Homo sapiens: one gene and its partners. The protein of the gene in region 1 purifies or fractionates together with the protein of each later gene. This does not show direct contact. Each region holds a gene or a part of one and is shown on either strand. Other genes may lie near its edges.

What was found. Proteins that work in one complex are often made in the same cells at the same time.
Region 2: the proteins of PAQR3 (region 1) and UBLCP1 purify together in Homo sapiens (affinity purification with mass spectrometry; one large-scale study listed by BioGRID and IntAct). This does not show direct contact.
Region 3: the proteins of PAQR3 (region 1) and CYRIB purify together in Homo sapiens (affinity purification with mass spectrometry; one large-scale study listed by BioGRID and IntAct). This does not show direct contact.
Region 4: the proteins of PAQR3 (region 1) and ALCAM purify together in Homo sapiens (affinity purification with mass spectrometry; one large-scale study listed by BioGRID and IntAct). This does not show direct contact.

What each region holds. Positions count from the first base shown.
Region 1 is NC_000004.12:78,914,697-78,919,815, reverse strand, and holds part of PAQR3 (progestin and adipoQ receptor family member 3), read left to right. Parts: 3' UTR 1-1,935; coding exon of another isoform or gene 1,936-2,021; 3' UTR 2,022-5,119. UniProt on the Homo sapiens protein: Golgi-scaffold protein which modulates its interactors acitivies by anchoring them to the Golgi apparatus. Functions as a spatial regulator of RAF1 kinase by sequestrating it to the Golgi apparatus.
Region 2 is NC_000005.10:159,279,690-159,284,046, forward strand, and holds part of UBLCP1 (ubiquitin-like domain-containing CTD phosphatase 1), read left to right. Parts: intron 1-3,522; coding exon 3,523-3,650; intron 3,651-4,357. UniProt on the Homo sapiens protein: Dephosphorylates 26S nuclear proteasomes, thereby decreasing their proteolytic activity. Recruited to the 19S regulatory particle of the 26S proteasome through its interaction with 19S component PSMD2/RPN1.
Region 3 is NC_000008.11:130,005,927-130,010,660, reverse strand, and holds part of CYRIB (CYFIP-related Rac1 interactor B), read left to right. Parts: exon of another isoform or gene 1-5; intron 6-2,207; exon of another isoform or gene 2,208-2,327; intron 2,328-4,734. UniProt on the Homo sapiens protein: Negatively regulates RAC1 signaling and RAC1-driven cytoskeletal remodeling. Regulates chemotaxis, cell migration and epithelial polarization by controlling the polarity, plasticity, duration and extent of protrusions.
Region 4 is NC_000003.12:105,369,309-105,374,042, reverse strand, and holds part of ALCAM (CD166 antigen isoform 1 precursor), read right to left. Parts: intron 1-4,734. UniProt on the Homo sapiens protein: Cell adhesion molecule that mediates both heterotypic cell-cell contacts via its interaction with CD6, as well as homotypic cell-cell contacts. Promotes T-cell activation and proliferation via its interactions with CD6.

The DNA.
Region 1 (5,119 bases):
TATAGTCATTAGCCACCTAAACATTTTAATTCCAGATATTATTTAATTCCATATAATAACTGAATTCTTGTGAGTGGATTACAGGTTTTTGATCCCAAAATTCCAGAGCTTTCAACTCTCTGAATTTGTAGTCCTGAATATCCCAGTGGTGGGGGTTCCCAGCATTGTGGGTGCTACTTGCAAGGCCATAGAATCTAGATGGCCCTGTCTTGACCCTGAAATGAACCTTAAGCCTTAGAACAAAGTCATGCAGATGCCCCATTTGATAATAATCTTATTCACCTGTGCTCTGGTCCTCGGTTTCTGCATGTGTTAGCATTGCATTGATAACTCAGAATCTTGATAAACACTTAATATTTGGGCCTGAAGCATTAAACTTTCTTTTTATTGTATATACTTAAAAAATAGAACTCACTGCCCTATCATACATTGTAGCCCTCTTATTCTTTGGTCTTTCATATGCATTAGTTAAATCCCTTAAAGTAGACATTCATAAAAACTTACATTGTTTATTGGAGTATAAAATATTACCCAAGTTTCTTCATGAGTTGACATGAGCTGTTTTAAATACTGGTGTATTTTCAGAACAGTAAAATTACTGAATATCAGAAAAAATGTTAATTGATGATGAAGCTTATTCCCAAAATGCCTTTTGTGCATATGATACTTGGAAAGTCACTAATGTGCCTCAGTTAATACATCAGTAAAATGTTGTGTTTCTTTTCCAGTGTAGTGTTTTTGGAATATAAATTCCCCATGCTAGTATAGTATCTCAGCAAAGAGAATTTCCCCCCAGGAGGCTCAGTAAAGGAATACCGTGTCTTACCCATCGTTATGATGGAAGGCTGCTTTGAAAATGGCTGTTTTACCTTATAAGGTTAAAATTTTGATCCATATGTTAAGTGATAGAAGATTTTGGTGCAACAGTAGTAGGATATATTTCTCCTAGAACATCCCTTATTGGCTTACATGATTTTATTGCCTTTTAATAGATATTTTGTCATTTTGGCCAAACAAAAGACACTGAGTAGTTACACTTAAGTTAAAAATGAGGGGAAAATCATTATTTTAGGTGTGGAGCCATTTTTATTATAAAACTTTCTCAAAATAAAAAAACATTGAATCATTTCAATTTTTGCAGTCCCTGTATTAGTATATGAATACATACTTGCCATTTGAATTAATAACATGAAAAGAGTATACTGTGTTTTTAAATCCGTGTTTCTTTGAATTTAAAGGGTGTACAGGTCTTTCTGTAGGGAAAATTATTCCATGTAAACATTTCAACTCTGTATGAAAATGTTAAATATTGTAAGAAAGTTATCCTCTCATTTTTTCACTGCTATGATATATTTATTATAAAATAGGGAATGAATGAATGAATATGGATTGCTGTTAACTAGAAACACTTCTGTATGTCAGTCAGCATTTAATGACCACCTACTGTGTGCACAGCACTACTGGTAAAATTTTGAAGACATTGTTAACATTAAAAAATATTTTAAAGTTGTCTACAAATCTGAGCCTTGTAATGATGTATATTTAAGTTATTTTTGTTTTTATAGATTAAAGTAAGATTAAAATATACTATCCAGTTTTATTACTAAAAAAGACTGGTTTTAATTTTACCAATGTGTGAACTATAAAAGCTTTTTGCCTACAGATTTTACATTTTAAAATTATCTATGGCTGTTTTAAATTGTCTAGCAATTTATATGGTTGTGGTTAACTCATTTAAGAAACAATTATCTTTCTATATTAAGCCATTTTCAAATAGCAAGACAGTGCTTGTCTTTTTTTGTTATTACACTAACTGCAATTCAGTAAGCTGCATGACAAAATATGTATTATGTAAATAAACTGGGTTTACTAAATATTTTTAACTGCTGCTTGTCATTCTTTGTAATACATAACAGCTTTAAAATCATATTTTAGAATCAGGAACGAAGATTCAGGGAATGTCTGTCACATCTTATGGCATCCCACCTGGACAGAATATCCGATTTGAAGATTGTGATTGACTTCCGTAAAACTGTACAACTCTCCATTTGGCAGGTACCTACTAGATAATACTTTGCCCTGTATTAAATGTCAAGGGGCAAAGCCTATTCCTGTGAATTCCTGCTGGTTGCTTTGCTGCATTAGGTCCCTGTCCACTGTAAATCATCATTCCTGGGAATTCTACTTCTGCCCAAGTGTGTAAAGAATCAGCTCACCTATTAGAGAAGGGGTAGAAATACCTTCTGTGTGCATTATCACAATAACTGTGTTTACACTAAAGAGGTGTAAATACAGTCCTCTGAAATTTTGTACCAGAATTCCCAAGTAGTGTAATGAGATAATGATCCAGAACTGAAACTACCCTTAAGAAAACATTTTTGGAAGGGAGAGGTAAATAGCAGTAGGGGGTTTCTTGTGAAAAATTAACCTCCATCCTTAAGAGGGCTGAAATGAACAGCCACCAAGGTTCTAGTCCTGCTCTATAAAATCTGAGATCAAAATACTACCTAACCTGCACATAATCTCAATTGTGACAACCATCTGAACTATCTCATTTAATATGTAACAACAAATACAAGCTCAAGCTTTCAATATGAGAATATTAACTACATGTTACATATGATGCTTGACCTGGGCTTCCTTAAAAAGGTATTCGTTATCCAAAATAAATAGCTCAAATTGCAGCATATATTCATCTCAAGTAACTATAACTGAATTTGAACAGTAATACACTGCAAACTATTCTTTGTTAATAGAACTTTTCTAATCATTTGTGTTATTTTGCTTTGTACCATTCATTTTCATTAAAAAGATACAAAGCCCCTTTTTTTCACATAACTTTAGATAAATGTTACAACTTCAGAAAAAGTTAATTCATAAAAATAGGATGAACCTTTCCACAGGCTACCAAAGACTCCAGTTTTTGGAATAATACATATTATAACCTTGATGCCAAGCTTAGTCCATCAATCCAATAAATAGGTTTTCTCTTTAATGTGTCATAGCCTCTTTTCTGATATAATTGAGGATTACAATGTTATTTAAGCAAATAACCAGTATTAATTCAGCCAAAGATGTTATCAGTTTTAAAGATTTTTAAAAATTTATAATGTGGAAGCTGTAAAATAAGTTATTCAGAAGGCACTACACAATATTGTTTTTGCCTTACTGTCATCACTCGAGTATCAGTAATTATGACTCACTGAAAAAGTCGTGCTATTAAGTGTTCTTGTGGCAAAAACTCTTAAGTCAAATGGGTTTTCTTACCTAAATTGTAAACTCTGAGCTCCTTAAGAATAGGGATCTAATCTTAGCAACTTTTCTATTCCACTAGCTGCTACATAATAGGTGCTTAATGTTTGTGGTGTGAATGAAATAACTGAATTTGAATAGAAGTTTACATCCAAAAGTCATAATAAGACAAATAATGAAAAACTCCAAAGTCACTGATTATAAAGAATATGCAATCCATTTGGGATTTATTGCATTTAAAGAAAACAGATTAAAACAGGTATGATAAATACAGTAAGAAAATAACTTTAAATTTCAAACAAAACAGTGAATCAGGGACAGAATTCAGTCAAAAAGAATAAGCAGTGTAAAGGCAATAAAGTAATAAAATCAGTTAGTGCTTAATTAGATATGGCAGGGGAAAAGGGGTGGGAGGGGGAGACTGAGTCTATCTCATAATTGTTTCCCAGCTATATTTGAGGACTGAAGTTACTTTAGCAAGTATGTTTTGTAACAAGTAGAAATACAATAAAGATGTAAATTTGCTTTATTTAAAGGTTAAAGTTATTTGCTTAGTGGTACATAAAAGGCTTCAGAAAATTCAAGTTTAACAAAAAATGGAAGTGTAATCAAAGAAAGTGCACTTAAAGCTGTTTGCCAGCAATTAAAAAGTAGCTTCTATACAGCTTCTATTAGATGACTTTTCAATCACAAAAAGAGCATAGTCATAAAAACAATTCTTTCAAAAGTAGCAGTATAAATTTTAAAATAAAACAAAAATAACCCCAAATCATGACCCTTTGCATTATCATCTACCTTATTCTCTTAGTAGCTTTTGTAAACCCTCACTAGGAGTGAATGTTCTCTTAGATATGATTGTGGTTGCAATTCCATTTTTTAAAAATTCACATTAACTCCACAGTAGAGAGATGTGACATGCATGTGTGTACATATTTTTATCTTAATATATAAAACACCACTGAGTATAAAAGTTCTCAAATAAACTATTCATCATTTATGGTATTCTCACAGTAGATATGTCATCTCATTCTCACAGTAGACTGTCAACTCAATAATTGGACCTAAAATAACAAGTTTGCTAAAAAGAAAAAAAAATGAGAAAAAAGTTTACTGCACATTCTAAATATATTAAAAACAAATGTACCCAAGCGCCTCAAAACTAGTGATATTAATACACTTGTACCTTCTAACAGTGCTTACGTGAAGTACCAAAACCTAAAATAAACCAAGCAGAGTAGCTGACTTGTAAGAAAACTGCTCTGCCTGGTGAACTTCAGCATAGAAGAGTGGGCTCCACCTTAGATTTTCCACCAGCAAGAGGACAACAGTCTATCACTCTTAAACAATAAACAGGGTAAGACTGAAAGTTGTGTCTATTTGCAAATCCGGATAATGTCGTAACTATACCCAACACGTACACAGGGATTGGGGTAAGGGAAAATAATTACACTCCTGAATAAATGTTCTAGTCAGTTAAATTTTCATCCGGCCTACAACCTTTCCTCCTCCACCTATTATACTTACCATGCAATTTTTGTGTCTTAGCAGATACATTCTTCAATGCCATAAAAAGCTGATCTTTTTAATACTAACATTTTACTGACGTGATATTAAAATAAGCAAATGGTCCACTTTTTAAAGGATTATTCAAAATCAACAAGCATTATTAAAGCTGTTAAGAAACAACTTTGGCCTCAAGATTTTTGCTAGCTTCATAATAATTTACTTCTCTTAGTGATGTTCAAGTATAACAGGTTTAGTTATAACTACATCCTAAAGAAGCACAGGGGACACCCAAATAATATTAGGGAAAAAAAACCCCAAATATATATATATATATATATTTGCTTAGTGGTACATATATAAT
Region 2 (4,357 bases), on another chromosome or scaffold:
AGTGGTTATGTTGTCCTTAATGGTTTCTGTTTAAGGCTTGGAGAGAAGTGCTTTTCTTAATATGTACTGCACCAGGTAAAGGTACAAAAATGTATTCTTGAGTCTTGAGAAGAAATGTGGTTGATGTAAACCTAATTGTTTGTGAAACGAATGGTTATTACCTGTTCTTGCAAGGAGGTGATCCCATGATGGTCAAGGAATAATTTTGGAGGAGACGTTTAACTTTAAAAAAAAAAATACAATCATTAGTTTCATGTTTGTTTAAAAGAAACTTTGTTTTCCTAACCAACATTTGAGCTCCATTCATCTCTTGATGCAGGGAGAGATGTTATTGTAAATGTCTAGTTCTTTATGTTACTTTACAGTAGGGTTTTTAAAAGACTGTACTCAGTAGACCCACTGAAGGAATTCCTAAAAATACGTATGTCCCCATCCCCTAAATTCTAATTCCAGAGGTAGATTTAGACACTCCACAGGCTGTCCTTGTGTGTCTTTTATTGAAAACCTCTTTTTTATAAAATTAATCTACCCAAGATAACACTTCATGAAAACCTCTTTTAAGGTTAAAGATTAAAGGTTAAGATTAAGATTAAAGATCTGCCCACGTCGGCATAGAAACAGGTGGGGTTTTCTGACAGGGTCTTGCTCTGTCACCCAGGCTGGAGTGCAGTGGCATGATCAGAGCTCATTGCAGCCTCGACTTCCCTTGCTCCAGTGATCCTCACATGTCAGCCTCCCAAGTAACTGGGACTACAGGCGCACGTTACCACACCTGGCTAATTTTTGTATTTTTGGTAGAGACAAGGTTTCGCCATGTTGCCTAGGCTGGTCTCGAGGTCCTGCACTCAAGCGATCCACCTATCTCGGCCTCTCAAAGTGCAGGATTACAGGCATGAGCCACTGCGCCCAGCCCAGAAAGAGTTCTAAAATGGAGAAATATCCTCAAATGCTGTGTTTTGTTATCATGCTTTCATAATGCACTTGGTAGAAATCTCAAAGATTTCATGTAGATCTTAAAAATAAGACTGCTCATTTTTAAAATAGTTAACTTCTATTAAACATAAGCTTGTCAGTCATAAGGTTTGAAGTACATGGAAGGTACTGTGAATATGAATTTAGAATTACACTAAAAGAATGTGAATCTTGGTCATGGATAAAGCAGTTTATCGGCTGAAAACTCCATTTTTATTGTCTGTACAAGGAAATTATGATATAGGAGAATTCAGCTTATCTAGACAGTCTTAAGTTTCTAAAAATGCTTCCTTGACCTGAGACAAGATGATGGTTTCCTGTCCTTTTAGTGATCACTTAGATCAGTTTTTAAAAATGTACAGTAAACAGTGGTTATACTGGAGCAAGTGAAGTCAATTAGGTGCATAGATTTTCACCCTTAATTTGTTTATTTAAAATTTTAGAACCAGAATCATTAGAATATTTTAGTTTTGTTGTTTAATAGTGCTTAAGAGCAAATGTTTGGAAAGTAAAAATAACTTAGCAGAGCCTTGGGTTGAAAATCTTATTTACTACCCACCAACCCTGTAATTTCCTGCTGTTTAAATTTGGACACTTTGGTACATTATATATTAATTGCTTAAAAGTTAATTTGTTACCTTTCAGTCCTTAGGAAGTGAATGAAGGAATACTTTAAAACATTACCATATCACCCAGGATTATGCAGAAACTCATTTCACTACATCCTCATATCATGACTCTGTTTACTCCCATCCCCAGGGCCTAAGCAAGGCCCTGTAAAGCGTCGTCTTCAGCCCCCACATTCACTGCTGCTCGGAAACAGCACTGCTGCACTACCTTTTTGGAAGTGGGATCTCCCACAAATGCTGATTTCTGAGGAGACTCCCTTTGACAGCTCTTGACTGGTGCCCTTCAAGCAGTATGGGAGCCAGCTAACAGTGTGGAGGTCACTGGCACCAAGCTGTTCTGATGAGAGTAGAACACCTGGGAAAATTTTCTTCTGTCCATTTCAGATGGGTGGTGTTTTTCCAATGACAGAAGAAAAGTATGTAAAAAATACTTAAACCCTTCCCTACACTTAATAGGTATGGTAGTAGACTCCTTTGGGCTCACTCATTGTTCTTGCTTCTCAGTAAGTGACAATGATTAAATATCATTCATTTTTCAGTGTTAACTGTGTAAAATTAATAACTAATGACCAAAAAAAAAAAAAACTAATGACCAATTTGCATTTTCTCCAAATCAAAAGAATATACTAATACTTTGCTAAGTATGATGAAATCAGTCCTTACATGTGTGCTTTAGGAATATGTGTGCTTTAGGAATATGTATGATTTTTTTTTAACGATAACAGAAAAATTCAAATGTAAACAGAACTATATAAAATTGCTTAAACCCCCATGTAGATATCATTCAGTTTAAATTAGCTTATTAATTCATGGATGGTTATTGTTTGCTCTATACGCTACTTCCCTCTCCTTAATATTTTGAAGTAAATCTTAGTCATATCATATTATCTAAAATTAATTTAAAATTATTGAAAGACTATCTTGAGTTGTATAAAGATATTTGAGCAGGTGTCTTTTACAAAACAGCAGAATTCTTTACTGAAGCTATAAAATAAGGAAAAGTGCATAAATTTATAGTTCAACAAACTGTAAAGATAATTCTTGTAAAAAATTTTATTCCACTAAAATTACTCATGATTTTCCTTTCCAAAGATAAACACTATTACCATCTTGATTTATAGTCCTCTAGTCTTTTTAAGCATAGATTTATGCACAAATCTAGATGAAGATTGCATATAAACATATGCATTCATAGCACCGCCACTCAAGTCAAGATATGGTATTCCTTACTAATTGCAGTCCCCTACCTCGGTCTATTATTCTGACATGTGTGGTTTGAAATAATGCTTTTTAAACTCTTTTTCATCATAAAATAGATCAGCCTTAAACATTTGGAAAATATGGCAGTTCTTTTTATGGAAAACTCTTGCATAATTAAAAATGATTTTAACAGAGAATTTAATGATAAAGAAAAATGCTTATGATAAAATGTAGGAGGAAACAGGTTATATAAATGTATAATGATATCTCAGCTATATAAAAATTTAATAGAAAAATAAAATAAAAATCATCGTTAAAATTTATCTCACTGTACTGTTAGATCAAGCTGGTATTGGGGTTAAATTTTTATGAATAAAATAATGTGAATGAAATTAATTAGAAGCAACTAGAATGATAGGAGGCGGGAAAGGCTAAGTAGTTTTGCAAAGTAGAGTAGCTGTGTATGGATTCAAGTGCAATAAGAAAGCTGGTGTTGTCAGGTTCAGATTGAAAAGATAATGTTAGGTAAAATAGGTAGAAGAGTTTGTAATTTGTAAACATTATACATGACTTTCTATTTAGGCTAATATAAAAGTAATTTTTAGTATTTATGTTCTTGGTGATATTTTAACCTCATTAACTCTAATTGAAATGATAGTATAGATTTGTTAGTTTTCCTTATCACATTGTGATGTGTTGAGTAATGTTTGTTTCCTAATAGATAAGGCCTTTTATGAAAGCGCACCTAAATCGTGATAAAGACAAAGAACTTTTAAAATTAACTCAGTACCTCAAGGAGATAGCAAAATTAGATGACTTTTTGGATCTAAATCACAAATATTGGGAAAGGTAAGTTTTAATTGCTTATTTATTTTCTCTTTACATCAATGAAGAAAAAATTATCATTTTTCATCAGTGACCCCAGTATATATATAGCTGTCTTAATTTTTATTTAAAATAGGTGACTTCTAAAAACATTTTCTAATCCAGTGACCTACCCCCAAAAGTATTTTCCCCTTTCATCTTAACCTCTAACTTGTTCATAAACATACCTCTTGTAAACTCTTTAATACTTCTAGAAGAGAGAACTTGAGAGACTAGCATATGTTGGTGATGCTGCCTGTAAATTATTTTGTGATGTTAGGTAAGCTACTCCTTTATGAATCACATGGAATATAATCCCTCTTCTCATACTGTAACTTAATGTCAGGATAAGATAAAACACATGTAAAAATTTCATAAATAGTATTAAAAATTACCAGTAACTTGAGTGTAGCAGAGAAATTAGAAAAGTTTATCCTACTAAAAAAACAATTACTCATAATTTTCCTTTTTAAAGATAACCACTGTTACCATCTTGGTATATAGTCTTTCAGTCTTTTATCTAAACCCAAATGTTTGCACAAATCTATATAGACGTTGCCTATAAACATCAAGGTTTTGAGACAGAGAAAAGTCCCCAGAGAAGTGGAAGGTATTACTATGTATTACAGTATTTGGGGGGGAATTAGATCTTTGAGGATCTGGTTCCAGTAATACAGCACCAAAAGAAACTA
Region 3 (4,734 bases), on another chromosome or scaffold:
GACAGGTGACAGTGGGAGCAGGAAGGGGTGGGAGAGAGACCACCTCTGTCTGCCAGCAGGTGCTGAATAAGCCCAGGAGGGCCTAGATGCTGTGAGCCATTGAGATGGGGCTGCCTTCAGGGAGCGGGGGAGGAGAGGCAGTGTGAGCTGAAGGACTGAGCAGAAACCCCATACTCAGAGTTTCAGGCCTAAGCATCCAGTACTCTAATTTTAACACACAAGGGAACTGGGACCTCCTGGGGGGAAGCATCTTGACCAAGAGGCACAGTCAGGACTGGAACCTAGGCCTCTGGCTCCTGAGCCTGGTTTTTGCTCACCGCTCCACAGTGCCACCCTCTGCATCCACTGCTGTGTTTAGCAGTAAGGCTGTGAGAGCAGGAGGATGCTGAGGACTTTCTCTAGTTCAAAATGTACCTCTGCCCTTGACCTTCGTTCATCAGGGGACTAGGCACTTAAATCCACAGTGAAAAAGAAGGCCCAATGTGGGAAAAGTGACAGCTTTGAAATCAACATAAACCATGCCAGAGACTAATCCTCTTTCTGTCTTTTCCCCCTCCCAGCACCAGCATCCTTTGATAAGAAGGTGGGGGAAGGACAGTGAGGGCCCCGTTGTGCAGAGGAGTTAAGGATGGGAAAGGCTTGGGCGGTAGGAGGAAGAAAAGCTCCATTCTTTCCTCATCTGCCTAATAGAGTCTCCTGTCACTGGCTCTGTCTGGCCGCTTTAAGCTCTTTGGAATTTACATCCAGTGCTCACTCAACAAAGCCTATTGCATGGCAGGGCTGATGGAGCCCTGGGCCTGCTTCTCAGCGCTGCATGACCTTGGGCAAATCACATCCCACTGCAGAACCAGAATTGTCATTGATGAAGCTGGGCTACTATCACCTGCTTCCCTGGAATGTTTGGAGGATTGAGTGGGATAATGTGTATCAAAGCATCTAGCATAGTCTAGCAGAAAGCCTCCATATACACGTCCTTCTCCCATGGGGCATAGTCACAGGTGGGTGAGAGCTGTATGATTTGTCCAGGGCTATCCTTCTGGCAGAGATGGGATCTGAATTTAATGCAGGGGGACAGTTTTTCATGATGCTTTTGGGCCGGGCGCAGTGGCTCACACCTGTAATCCCAGCACTTTGGAAGGCCGAGGCGGGTGGATCACCTGAGGTCAGGAGTTCAAGACCAGCCTGGCCAACATGGTGAAACCCTGTTTCTACTAAAAATACAAAAATTAGCTGGGCGTGTTGGCTGGCACCTGTAATCCCAGCTACTCGGGAGGCTGAGGCAGGAGAATTGCTTGAACCTGGGAGGCAGAGGTTGCAATGAGCCAAAATTGTGCCATTGCACTCCAGCCTGGGTGACAAGAGGGAAACTCTGTCTCAAAAAAAAAAAAAAAGATGCTTTTGAACTCCTCAGATGGCTTTATGAAAAATGAAACACTTTGCCATGTTAGTGGTTGGCGCCTTTGAAAAAGGACAGTGGCAGGTTGAGAAGCAAGGACCTTGGAGCCAAGGAGATCTTTGATTCAGACCCGACTCCCTGACTGTGAAGTCTTTTGCACATTGCATAACCTCTCTTGGCATCTCAGTGTCTGTTTTCCAGCTTGTTGTGGCTCTTAGGTCAGAAGATGTCTGAATATGCCTGACATAGGGTCTAGCATCAGTGAGTGCTCAGTAATTTGAGTCCCTGGTCTACAGAGCCTCAGTGCTGGGACTCAGGGAGAGGAACATGTAGACTAAGGGAAGTTTCTTCACCAGCCCCAGCTTTGCTCAAAACCAGAGTTGAAGTAGAATGCAGAAGACGACGTGGAAGTGAAACTTGGGCAATAACTTCCTAAAATGTCTGCTTTGCTCCCCTGAACTCTGGTTTTGTGTCTTGCCCTCTGCTTCTGGGACACGAGAGACCAACCAGTGTGTAGACAGATCAAACAGGCTTGCAAATGAAAGAATCAAATGGAGATTTCTGTGTTTTCTGAAAAGTGGTATTTTACAGTCATTCCTAAACATGCCTTCATAACTCTCAAGTTTTCAGGTCTTGAGGGAGGAGTGAGATTCATCCTGCCATTCAACAACAGAACAGTCACTGAGTGTGCACCTCCTGTGTGCTAGGCCCCGTGATGGATCCACATGGGGAATGATAGTGTGTGCCCCACAGTCACCCCACACATGTCCCTGAGGCCTGAACAGCTTGGAGAATGAAGGAGTTTGGGTTTATTTCTTTGGGTTAACTTAAACTCAGCCCTTCTAGGCCCATTCTTTTCACTCAGGAATTGGATAAGCTTTTCTGAGGGGTTTGGAATGGGATGGCAGGGAGAGTCACCAGACACCATGAATGACAGGCCAGCAGGTTGATGGTGGCGAGTGGAGCAGGAGCTAGGGAGTGAGGTCACATTTCTGGACTATGTGTGCAGGCAGCTATGGACCTGGCAGAAAGCCCCTCTATTTATTTATTTATTTAGAGACAGAGTCTCGCTCTGTCACCCAGGCTGGAGTGCAGTGGCACGATCTCGGCTCACTGCAACCTCCACCTCCCGGGTTCAAGCAATTCTCCTGCCTCAGCCTCCCGAGTAGCTGGGACTACAGGCGCCCGCAACCATACCTGGCTAATTTTTGTACTTTTAGTAGAGATGGAGTTTCACCATGTTGGACAGGCCAGTCTTGAACACCTGACCTCAGATGATCTGGCCGCCTCGGCCTCCTAAAGTGCTGGGATTACAGGCGTGAGCCACCATGCCTGGCCTGGAAGCCCCTCTTAACAGGGCTCCCATCAGGATCACGTCGTGGGTTTCTGTGATTTTTTTGGTCTCCTTTATGGCAATATTAACTTTCTTTTATGGAGCATGGAGCAAGTGTCCTGTACTTTGTTGTTGTTGCTGTTTTTGGAGATGGAGTTTCGCTCTTGTTGCCCAGGCTGGAGTGCAATGGTGCAATCTCGGCTCAGCGCAACCTCCGTCTCCCAGGTTCAAGCAATTCTCCTGCCTTAGCCTCCAAAGTAGCTGGGATTATAGGCCTGTGCCACCACGCCCAGCTAATGTTGTATTTTTAGTAGCGACAGGGTTTCACCATGTTGGGCAGGCTGGTCTCGAACTCCTGACCTCAGGCGATCCACCTGCCTCGGCCTCCCAAAGTGCTGGGATTACAGGCGTGAGCCACTGCGCCCAGCCATGTCATATACTTTGAATATTTTATTTCTTACTTTCATGGTAACTCTGTGAGGCAGGTAATATTATTCCCGTTTTACAGATGAGGAAACTGAGAAAACCTGGAGGCTGATAAAAAGCAGAGCTGGAATTCAAACATACCAGGCCAGCTTCAGTGCCCACCTCCTGTTTTTACTACCTCCTTTGGGTGAACCTCAAACGTAACTGGAAAAGTCTATGAATGGAGTTGTGTAGCCGAGAGCAGACACTGCTCCTGCTGGACCCTGCTGGGAGAGGGCGGTGGTTTTCTCAGTGGGCATCTCATAACGGCGGGCATCTCAGCAGCCCTCAGGGCCAAGAACCACCTACTGCAAACTCGTCAGCCAAGGAAGCTCAGAATTTATAATTGTGGTTGTAAGTAGATTACTTGAGCTAATGTGAGCAGTGAGGTTTTTGGTAAAGTTAGTGTGAAACTGACTCATACTAATAATCTACCTCTTGATGCATTTGGTGTTGCGATTTGTAGCACTTTGCATTGTCTGCATACATGCATCCCCACTAGAAAAGATTTGGGGGAAAGAAGGGTCCTGAGACCATACACTCTGGGGGATTGAATTTGAAAGGAAAATTTCAATGTTTGGATGCTGGTCCATGTAGACTTGAGCAAATAAGGTGCACATAGGATTTATACCTCTGCTTTCAAGTCCCCCCACCCATTTTCTATATGTGACCTTGCCAGCATACTCTATGCATGTGTTCCCCCTTCTGCAGGATTTCTTTAATCTGCTCATACCTTGGGTGTGCTTACACTTCCTGGGTGGGAGGTTCCAGATATATGTGTGTATATATATACATATATATATACATATATATATGTATATATATACACATATATATGTATATATATACACATATATATGTATATATATATAATTTGTGTTTTTAGTAGAGACGGGGTTTTACCATGTTGGCCAGGCTGATCTCGAACTCCTGACCTCAGGTGATCCACCTGCCTCGGCCTCCCAAATAAATAAATATATATATATTTTATTTTATTTTATTTTATTTTATTTTTTGAGATGAGAGTCTTGCTACGTTGCTCAAGCTGGACTCACTCTCCTGGGTTCAAGTGATCCTCCCACTTCAGCCCCCCAAGTAGATGGGACTATAGGTGCACACCACTGTACCCGGCAAGCCAGATTCTTTTTCTTCTTTTTTTCTTTTGAGACAGAGTGTCACTTTGTCACCCAAGCTGGAGTACAGCGGCGTGATCTCGGCTCACTGCAACCTCCGCTTCCTGGGTTCAAGCGATTCTCATACCTCAGCCTCCTGAGTAGCTGGAATCACAGGTGTGGACCACCATGCCCGGCTAATTTTTGTATTTTTAATAGAGACAGTATTTTACCATGTTGGCCAGGTGAGTCTCAAGCTCCTGACCTCAAGTGATCTGCCTGCCTTGGCCTCCCAAAGTGCTGGGATTACAGGCATGAGCTACCGCGCCCAGCCTGGAGTCATATTTTTAATGAGCATTCTAAGTGATTCTGATGCAGAGGTCCCTGTCACTGGGTTAGAGAAATATCTGTTAAGGGTAATCTGCCCG
Region 4 (4,734 bases), on another chromosome or scaffold:
CCTTTACGAATATACATGTTCTTTTCTTTTTGTTTTTCATTAATACTACTAAAGTGCCATCAGGTCTTGATAGCCTGTCCCACTCTGTTCTTTCATGATGGTTTTATTTTCCAGTTCAATTCTCAGTGAGGAATATTATATCCTCAACTCCCAAACTCCTTGAGAAAATTTCTTAGTAATGCATGAATGTCAGGTGCTGCCATATGGAGTTTAATTCTCCACATATGCATTGCTTCTACTGTATTTAATGCAAAGAAAAAATGTGAAGCAGCTTCTAGGTGTCAAGCTCTTAACTAGACTTGAGGATACATAGACAAAGATGATATTTGGTATTCAAAAAATTTATGTTCAACTGAAAAAAGTCACCAATATCATAATACAATGTGGTAAAAACTACAGCAAAGACAAGTACAGGGAAAAGGAAAAGGGAAAAGTTAAGACTCACTTTAGTCATTATCAACATTCCAATGTTGATTTTGCACCAAAGGCAAGTAAGTACAGGAAAGTTTTTTTTTCTTCATTCACAGTTCAAATAAGGTAATCTAGACTCTCTCTAAAACTATACAGATGGAGAGGATAAAAATCTACTTATATCAATTTCTAAGGTGAAAGTATCTTTGAGATTTATCTCCCTCAAGAAAACATTGTGTTGGAGTGCTGGTTGATATCTTAATCTACAAATTCAGTTAACTTCTCTAGTGAAATCATCATAATAAGTTAAAATAATCAAAAATAAAGTCTTTTTTAATTACAAGTTCCAATCTTCCTAACATTTATGGATTTGATATTACTGGTTTTCACTGTTTACTGTAACCCCATAATCCATTATAAGTAGTAATTTTTTTTTCTAAAAGCAGGTGTGTGAAAATCCTACTGGAGAGTCAACCTACCTGGCTGCTAACCCAACTCATAACATGAAAAGGGTATTGCTTTATTATTCATTTATTCATGGAAACTCATATGATGTAATAAAAAACTTGCTTAAGAAAAAGGGCCAGGTGAGGGTAAAATTTTTCTAAAACTTGAAATGTGATTTTGCAGAGCTAAACAAATTATTCATAGTGGAAGTGTCATTGAGCAAAGGCCAGAAGACTACAGCAATTGCCATGGTCATAGTATGTTTTCCTGTGAATGAACATCAAGGGTCTATAATATTTATAGGATTTGAGAAGATTGCAAAGGTTTAGTTTCATCTCATAGATGTTTTTAGTCTTACTTGGGCCAAGATTTTGCATCAGTTCCTTAAGTGATACAGAAAAGAGCTAAAACAATAATAACAGTAATAGAGAAGCAAATCAGAGAAGCTGGACAGCTGTCTAATTTCTGATTAACCTATTCCCCAGCAGTTTAGTTTCATTGTGTTGAAGTACTATGAATTCTTAGACCAGACAAGTATAGACATGTTCATTGAAGTACCTCAACTCAAAGTCAAATTAAGTAATCCTTTGGTTAGAAGATGTTTTGGATTGTGCGCAACTCTGATTTCCCCTTCAATGGAATGGATAATTGAGAACTGACTGGATAAATAAGAGAGGAAGCATTAAAAGCTAATTTCATTCTTGGAACATAGACTACAGTAATGGGCTATGATAATAGGTTAGCATAAAACAATTACTGAATACCATACCACATTTGGAACTAGGCCTATCTGAAATATATAAGGTATTCTATTCAATAATAAGGGAGAAAAGAGAATGTAAAATTTATTATTTAAGCAGAGAAATTAGCTGCATGAAAATATCAGTAACTCCAAAAATATGGTAATGACTTACGTACTATAGGGACACTATAATAATTGTAGGATTTAGATTTAACCTTACCAAACAGCCTGCAATATTCTCTTCCTGAATATAGAATATCTATTTTAGTCTTGAATTTACTCTCCACAAGGAAAGGAAAATTCTACCCTAATAAAAAAAGTAATCAAAAGTATAAATGGATTTTTTTCCATTTCTTATTGAAAATAAACTGAGTTGAAATCCAAAAGTAATAACCAAATAAATGTTATCACCCACCACACCCAAGAAACCATTCTTTAGTATTCCAGTAAGTTAGTTCATTCTTCATATGTCACATACATGTGTCACACACATAATGTGTAAGAAATGAGATTAGCCTCTGTGAATACTTAACAATGAAGAATAAAATTAACACATTGTGAGAAATTGCATTTAAGTTTCTATGTATACATTGAGACAGAGACATATTCTTCTATCATAGCTATACCTAAGTGGATCTTCTGCATATCTGGGCTATAAATTGCATGTGTCTACTTGAGTGAATACCTTCAGGGAGCTAGAACTCTTTGATGGTGTTTTATGCTAAATAAATGGCCAGAACAGAAAGAAGTGTGTTTGGAATTGTAAAACATGGTGATTATAAAGCATTTAAAATACTATCTGACAAACTGCTGCCATCTTACACCAAGTAATATTGACAACTTAGGTGGTACTAAGTTTTACAAAGGCCCACGGTTAGTGGCATGAAAATTTGACGGAGAAAAAGAAAAAAGAGAAAAAAAAAAAGAAACATCTTTCCATTATTTTAATAAAATGATAAAAGTGATAATTAAGTGGAATAAATTAAAGAATGTTATTCTATTAACAATATAATAAAAGCCTTAATTAATATAGCACGTTTTACTTAAAAAATTTGAAATGCTGAGCAAGGGAATTACTAATCTCAACACAATCAGAACCACACATTGCACAGAAAGAAATTCACAGATGGGAAATAAAAAAGAGCAGAAAAATAATTTTCCCAAGGTCACAACATTCTTACATGACATAGTTAGAAACTGAACACATGAATACTGACTACAATATACAATTTTTCTAATAACACAAGACTATTTAATTAATTTTCTTCTTTTTGATAAGTCAATGGTAGACATGCATTTTCATCTGAATGTCTATTAAAAAAGATAAGCTAGTTTGAATTTTTTACAAAGTCAGAAAAGGTTTGGAATCTGGTAAGACAAGATATTTTGGATTTCTACAAGTTTTAAAACAATAGAAAAATATTAGTATTTTCTATTTCCTTCTGTCTTGCATTTACAACCATGTTGCAAATCAACTTTTTGAGCAACTTTAGGATGTACAATATGAGGCTTTGTCATATGAATATTTAAGCATAAACCATAATTTACATCTCATTCTAGGTACTATGTATGCAGTTTATATAGGAACAGGTTTGCAGGAGAGATGAGTTACACTAGCAGGGCTTTCTGAGGCCTACTATCCTTTCTTACTTTTGGGTCCTCTTTTCCCAGGAGAGTGGAAGGCTAATTTCTCTCCTTCACGCTTTTTTTTTTCCCTACTAAGGCTGGAAAGAGTAAGCATAGATGTTATCATGAATTTTTAAAGGTAGAAAAAAAAAGGAAATTAGAAATTGGGGTCTACTGATACTTTTCTAATAATACAATTTATATGAATTTTGTCTAGACTGAGATCCTTAGAAAAATAGTGTTGAAAAATGACTCTGCCTGCCTAAATTGGTTTTTTACCTTAAGACTTCAGAAACAAAGAGTTTTTGAGCTGGGAGACATTTCAGAGAGTAGGCCTCTAGTCTGTCTTTTTATTTTGTATGAGAAAACTGAAGCTCAAAAAGGTTAAATGACTTGCTCAAGTGCCTGAAGGTAGATGTCCTGAAGAAAGCCTAGAAAAGCAATTTACTGCAAATAATGCTCCATTAAATTGTAAATTGCTATTGGATTAAATAAATCCTTAAGGAAAAAATATATATATATTGGCTGTTAAACAGTTTTTAGTTTTTAAATTAATCAATTTCAATAGTCCTACATCAATAGTCTTTGAAAGGACATTATTTGAGTTGATGCTTTCCCAAGTCCTGTTGAGATCAATTGATATGTTTCAAACATAATATCCCACTGAAGAAAGCTTTATGTGTGCTTATGTCTTAGAATGAATCTTATATCAGTGAGATCAGTGAGTAGTTATGAAAAATCCCATAGAGGGGTTCATACAGATGACCCAAGTGAAGAAAGAGTTAACTGCAGCGCCCCATCTCCTTGTAAATAATCCAGAAAAGCATTCTTTTTTTAAGCAATACAAAATGTCACCACAGGCTGACGCTCTTTCTACAAGAATAACGAGAATATTGCTATCTCGGATGTTGAACACACACTTCATTGCCTTCATCTCTGAATTCAGTTTTCGTGGTTCATATATTTTTCTCCTCCTTTCAAAACAGGTAACGTGGCACGCCTAAAATATATCAATGACTTTGTAGCGACTACAAGCCGAAAGACCCGGGGAAGCAGTTTCACAAACTCGAGTTTTTGACCTCTACAACTGGACATACACTATTAAAACTGCTCCGGAAATGAAGAGTGGCCGGCAGGGAAGGCAGTTACCCCGCTCAAATGAAGCCGGCCTTTGGCACCGCGCCCCCACCGGGCTCTGCTATGCAGAGGGCTCCGAAGAAGGCGCACTTACTGTCCAAGACTTGCTTCCTCAGTGTAGACACGGCGCCTTTAGTGCTGTAACCTTTCCTTTCAAAACACACTGATACTGCAATGAGAATTTCGGCAATGCCAGCTCGGTAATTCACCGAAACCACGGATCTGAGGGTCCAGGGCCGATATCGGATCCTCAGATTCACGGTGGCTGGTTGCGGTGAGCCGGGGCTAGCCGCTCGCCGAAAGCGCGCAGCTCGGTGCCCCCTGGACACACGAGCCTGTGGCGCCAAAAGAACCACCGTGAAGGAGGTCTG